Linked DNA regions of Homo sapiens: region 1 is reported to be linked to region 2. The links are microRNA targets in miRTarBase. Many come from high-throughput screens and were not tested one by one. Region 2 holds a microRNA gene; the other region holds the end of a gene's coding sequence.

Region 1 (3,000 bases), not on the chromosome of region 2:
GCAAAACTGTGGCTGTCCTCCACCCTCTGAACCGCCTACCAAGAGCCCTCCAGTGGCTGCTGGTGGGAACTGCAGCCTCTTCTCCCTCCCTTGCTGGTGGTTCCCTGTTCTGAATCTCATCCCTGCCCACAGGAGACCTACCTGATGAAGCACATGTCCAAACACACGGTGGTGGAGCACCTGGTGAGCCATCACTCGCCCCAGAGGACGGAGTCCCCCGGCATCCCGGTGCGAATCTCTCTCATCTGAGCCCACTGGAGGCGCCGCCCCACCCGGCCCACTGGCAGACACAGACCCAGGCAGCACCAGGCCCCAGCTCCCTCCGGGGGCCCTCCAGGAACCACCAAGCTCTCTCACGACCTTCCCAATCTTCCAGAAAGCTTGGTCCGCAGAAGCCCTGCCTGGTCCAGTCCGGGGGCGGCCAGGCCAACTGCAAGATTCTGGACTGTTTTGGTGGCATCCAAAGACGATCTCAGAGCACTTTGAACCTCTCTGTTGAGTTTTCTTTTTGTTCCCCACCCTTCACTTGCTTCACTGTTTTTTTTTTTTTCGTTTTTTTTTTTTAAGTTTGTTTTGGAAATAACAGAAAAGATATTTATTGGCCAGGAAGTTGGTGCTGCTAAGACCGAGAAATTTAAAGAATCGGACAGATGGACGCAGAGAACCAGAGGGCAATGTGGGACCTTCTCTTGCCATGGCCTCAGGTCTTGAGGGAAGGCTCGGGCCTAGGTTTCTGGACTGCAAAGGGGACCCCCAGGTGGGAGGGGCAGGAAGCAGCCGGAGTGAGCCCTTCGCCCCTGAGTGCCTGGCTCGCACCTCTCGAGCTGTGCCCTGGGCATCACTGAGCAGAGGGGTGCGGCAGCTTCAGGAGGCAGAAACGAGAGGGGTGGGAGATCCACAGGACCAAAGGGTGCAGTGATGGGCTGGGTGGCGGGCCCAGGGAAATGGGGTGGGGATGGGCTGGGTAAGACCTGGCCCTCCCCTGCTGCCCTGAAGACCACCCCAGTCTACCTCGGTGCTGGCCAGGAAACCTTTCGGCTACCTCTCCCACCATCCCAGACTGTGGGCAGGGGGATGGGGAGGGAGTGGGCCTGGATCTGGGACCTCCCTCCAGAATTTCCTCCAGATGGGGGCAGTGCCCAGGGAGGGGTTATTTGTCTTCCCTGCCATGGAGTGGGAATCCCCAGCCGAGGCCCTAGGCCCCTCAGCAGGGAAGGGATCCCCGGGGAGGCAGGTCCCAGGAGCAGACCCTGCCCCCAGCCCCCACAGACACACCCCAATCTGAAAGCCATGCGTGTCGGTGTATATAGGAACCATGTACAGAGCCCAGAGAAGCCCCCTACATCCCCCCGGGAAAAAAAAGAAAACTAGACAGAAACTCATCTATATATTCTGTATCTGGAGTTCCGTTTTGAATATTAACTGTGTTATTTTTATACACTTTTTAAGCCTTAACTCGCCATTGATTTACCAGTTTAACGTTTCCTGGGGTTTCTTTGCCCATGGGGTTCTCTGCCCCCACCCCCGGCCCTTTGTTTGACTTGCGTCGTCTGATACTCAGTATTGTAGCTTTTTGTCCGCATGTTACTCCCTGTAAATACGCTGTTATACATACTGTTAACACCCCTTTGCTTTTTCTATGGGACCTCCAGGCCACCATATTTAGAACTAGTTACCTTATTAAAAAAGAAAAAACAGTCTGTTGGCTTCTCAGTCTGCATCTTGGAGGCAGGGAGGTGAGGGCAGGTGCCCCTCAGACACTTCAGGAAGGTAGTTTGCATTCTATTTAAAAAAGGGAGTGGGGAGCAAATGAAAATCAAATGTGGGGGGAAAACACTAAAGGGGGCAAGAAACAAAGGAATTACAAACCCTCTGCTCTTTGTATTTCTCTGTTGTGAAGAATAAACTGTACCTGCACCCGGGTGGCGGTGGTGTTTGGCGTGCTCTGTGCGAGGGCAGGGCTGGGGGGCACCTTTCCATTGCTCCTCTCCCCTCCCCCGCCCCCCAGACTTGGAGAAGGAAGAAAGTGGCCTCTCACTGTGGGCTGGCCTCACTCCAGGTGCTGAACTGAGTGCTTTATGTTGATTGCCTCACAACTCCCTAAGAAGTGGGCAGCAAACCAAGAGAGGCCCTTTGCTAAGGATCATGCTGCAGTATAGTGGCAGTGACATAAACTGACCCAGCATTGCCTAGTTCTGGAGCCTTCTTGGATATACTAGGTCCACCAATAAGTCTCACTTCCACTGCTCCCTGAGGGGGCACCCCACCTATGTGGGGGGGGGGTCCATCATGAGTGCCTGATTTGTGGAAGTGATTCTAGTGATTGGAGGGGGAGTCCAAGACATCCTTGTCATACATTGTTTTTTCCCCATAGGAGTCAATGTTTTGACTGCCTAGGAAGGAAATTTAGTAATAAAATCCCCAAAAGCTTATCATGTCTGGCCCTGTGGAAGCACTGTGAGGGGGACAGTGCTTCCACTGTCCATGGAAGGTCATCATGGAGGTCATCTACCATGGAGGTCATCATTGGTTCGAACTCGTTTCCCTGAGTCCTCACAGTCCTCATGTGTCAAGACTTTGCTGCAAGTGATAGAAAGTCCAATCCAAACAAGGGTGTATTGGCTTATGTAACAGGACAGTGGTCAGGCCAGCTTCAGGGCTCAAAGGATGTGTCTCCAGCTCTCCACTCTGTTCTGAGTCAGCTTCAGCCTGAGGCGCCTGTGGGGTCAGCAGCTCTAGTCTCTCAGTCCCCAGGGTTCCAGCAATCAAGCCTCTTGTCTCTCTGACAAAAGCCTCAGTGTCTTCATCTGTTTTATGCTGCTATAACAGGATATCACAAACTCAGTAATTTATAATGAGCAGAAATTTCATTCTGTTCATGATAAATTCCAGTCTCATAGTTCTGGAGGTTGGGAAGTCCAAGAGCATGGTGCCAGCATCTGGTGAGGGCCTTCATGCCATGTCATCTCATGCCAGAAGGCAGAAGAGCAAGAGAGGGTG
Region 2 (3,152 bases):
CAATGAAATAAGGAAGATATTGGGTTCCATCAAGATAACAGGTTCCTATGTTATGCTAGGAACCTATTGTATCTGACCAACAACAGTAAACATTGCTGACTTTGAGACCAAAATGCCAGTCAAACATTGGCAACCCAAATCTTTCTAATCTGAAAAGGGAGCTCAAAATTCTTCCCTGAATGTAAAAGTGTCTAAGAAGTCTTAGAATGGTGGACAGCTCTCCTGTTGGGACCTACTTGTTTACAAGAACTATCCCAGTCCCTGAACAACTAATTCCAATGTAGAAAAGTCTCTTTGCTGAAAAAAGGGAGGTCTTTAGCTTGAATAGGAAAATGGGTGAGATAAACATGACAAGTCAATACCAAGAAACCAGTTTCGCTAAAATTTGCTCTGTTCCCTCAAAGTTATTTTTTTGGCTTCATTATTACCTTTATTGACAAAGTAACTTTTCATTAACAAGCATGACAAATATTTCAGTTACACAGCCAACTGTGTCAAGTCGTTTCATATAATGAAAAAGCAGGGATATAGATTGTGTTGTTTATTCCTCACAAATTATTCTTTAGAGGGAAGACCCTCTAAAAGGCGGAGAAAGCTTTAAACATGTTTACTTGACAGCACCTGAAAAATGATGTCATTACAGTCTAAAGTGAACTGATCATCAATTTGGTATTTGTGTTTTGGAAGGCCTTTCCCTTGACTGTTTGAGGCAGTAGAAAGTTTGCATGATTGGGCTGAACAGATTGTAGCACCCACAGAAGGAAATAAGATGTTCTTGATATACAGTCATGTGTTGCATAATGACACTTTGGTCAATGACAGACCACAAATACAATGGTGGTCCCATAAGGTAGTAATAGAGCTGAAAAAGTCCTATCACCTAGTGACATCTTGATGATTCTGACCCTGTGCAGGCCTAGTTTAATGAGTGTGTTTGTGTCTTCATTTTTAAGAAAAAAGTTTAAAAAATACAAAGATAAAAAATTTTAAAGACAGAAAAAAGCTCATAGAATAAGCAAATGAAGAAAATATTTTTGTATAGCTGCATAATGTGCTTATGTTTTAAGCTAAGTATTATTGCAAAATAGTCTAAAAGTTTTAAAACGTTAAAAAGTTTACAAAGTAAAAAAGTTACAGTCAGCTAAGGTTAATTTAGTTTTGAAGAAATAAAATTTAAAAAATAAATTTAGTATAGCCTAATTATACAGTGTTTATAAAGTTTACAGTAGTATACAAAAATATTCTAGCACTCACTCAGTGACTCACCCAGAGCAACTTCCAGTCCTGCAAGCACCATTCATGGTAAGTGCCCTATTAAGGTGTACTATTTGTATCTTTTATACTATGTTTTTATTGTGTCTTTTCTATGTTTAGATACACAAATACTTACCATCGTGTTACAGTTGCCTACAGTATTCACTACCACATAGTAACATGCTATACAGGTTTGTAGCCTACAAGCAATAGGCTATACTATATAGCCTAGGTGTGTAGTAGGTTATACCTTCTAGGTTTGTATAAGTACACTCTATGATGTTCATGACAAAATCACCTAATGATTCATTTCTGAGGATATAGTAACCCCATCGTTAAGCAATGCATGACAGTATATGTAACCTGTCCAGGGGAATCTTTGCTTCCTTTTCAAGTCACATGGTTTGGACCCAGAACTATTAGTCTTTGAGAGTATATTTCACTCCTTCCTAATTCCAGAGCTGCTTGGATGAAGTTCTACTATGACCTTTAACATACAGTGTTTTTCATCTCTCTTATGGGACAGTTATGGGCCCAATGATGGAAAATTTCATGTCATGGTTATCCCAATGCATTTGATGATGGTGCAATGATCAAAAAAGATGCCAGTGATGACAATTGAACGTCCCTTTGCCTTCCCAGCCTCCTTCATATATTCTCAGGCATAGGATGACAAAGGGAAGTCCACGAGTCACATGAAGAAAGACTGTAGCCATGGGTACGCGATCAGGAAGTCCTCTGCTTGCCTCCACCCCCACCCTCCTTTCCATCACCCTGTCCTATGGGTACATGATCAGGAGGTCCTCTGCTTGCCTCCACCCCCACCCTCCTCTCCATCACCCTGTCCTATGGGTACATGATCAGGAGGTCCTCTGCTTGCCTCCACCCTCACCCTCCTCTCCATCACCCTGTCCTGTGGGTAAATGATCAGGAGGCCCTCTGCTTGCCTCCAACCCCACCCTCCTCTCCATCACCCTGTCCTATGGATACACGATCAGGAGGTCCTCTTCTTGCCTCCAACCCCACCCTCCTCTCCATCGCCCTGTTCTATGGGTACATGATCAGGAGGTCCTCTGCTTGCCTCCATCCCCACGCTCCTCTCCAGCACCCTGTTGTATTTCTTCCTAATATTGTTTCTCCACCATCTTGCAACTAACCACCATCTTCTTCCCAAAGTTTTGCTTGATGACTCATTCCAACTGAATCAATGCTCAACCTATATTTGGCACAGAGTTGGTGCTCAAATAGTTGCTGAATGGAATAATGACCCTCAAACTCTCCAAGGTAACCAAACTTTAGGGGAGCCTTTTTAAAAAAATGAGATAATGCTTCCATGTGTAGGATGAAAGGAGAAAGTATTTTGGAATTATGTCAGCCTAGGTTTGCACCCAGCTGTGCCACTAATTGGATTTAAGGCAAAGGCTTAACCTCTTGGAGGTGCCATTTCATCAACTGTATAAAAGGAAGAAAATAATCCCTATCTTGAAGGGTTTTTGTGAGTATTAAAAGAGATAGTATATATGAAAATGCCTAGCATGGTGCTTGGAACCTAAATAAATGCTCATTCCCTCCTAGTAGTATCCCAATAGTGCCGTCAAGCTGTCCTATATGGTATCTTTAGGATGATAAATAATAGGGAGTAACTAATTTCTGATGTGGTTGAATGTCAGAAGAGATAGAGATAAAACAACAGTCATAGGGAGTGATACTGTTAGGAAATTATAAAGGAAATGAAGACTTCTGTGGTTAATTTCTTGGAGTTTAAGAAGAAATTCACATTTTCCATTAATTATACTTACCAACTGAGTCTAACTGGCAACTACCCCAAAATGAATAAAACAAGCGGGAGTCAAGAGAGAAAAACGGCAGGCATCCTGTCAAAAAATAAAATCTTTGAA

What was found. Region 2 holds the annotated microRNA hsa-miR-204-5p (UUCCCUUUGUCAUCCUAUGCCU, at 1,915-1,936, opposite strand). A microRNA usually pairs through its seed, bases 2 to 8, with sites in the 3' UTR of a target mRNA and lowers its output. Matches are read on the target gene's strand: a 7mer-m8 pairs with bases 2 to 8, a 7mer-A1 pairs with bases 2 to 7 and ends in A, and an 8mer does both.
Region 1: the mRNA of ZNF362 is a reported target of hsa-miR-204-5p. Seed matches in the 3' UTR shown: 7mer-m8 at 1,792-1,798.

The regions. Positions count from the first base shown.
Region 1 is chr1:33,298,798-33,301,797 of GRCh38, forward strand. It overlaps ZNF362 (zinc finger protein 362), which reads left to right. Exons shown (of 9, transcript NM_152493.3): 9 at 133-1,922. The coding sequence ends at 249. Among named protein-coding and RNA genes, the nearest start is that of A3GALT2, 21 kb to the right of the region's middle. RefSeq lists a silencer at 1-154 and an enhancer at 586-1,535.
Region 2 is chr9:70,808,117-70,811,268 of GRCh38, forward strand. It overlaps MIR204 (microRNA 204), which reads right to left and starts at 1,968; the gene lies at 1,859-1,968. The region is part of intron 6 of TRPM3 (transient receptor potential cation channel subfamily M member 3); the gene reads right to left.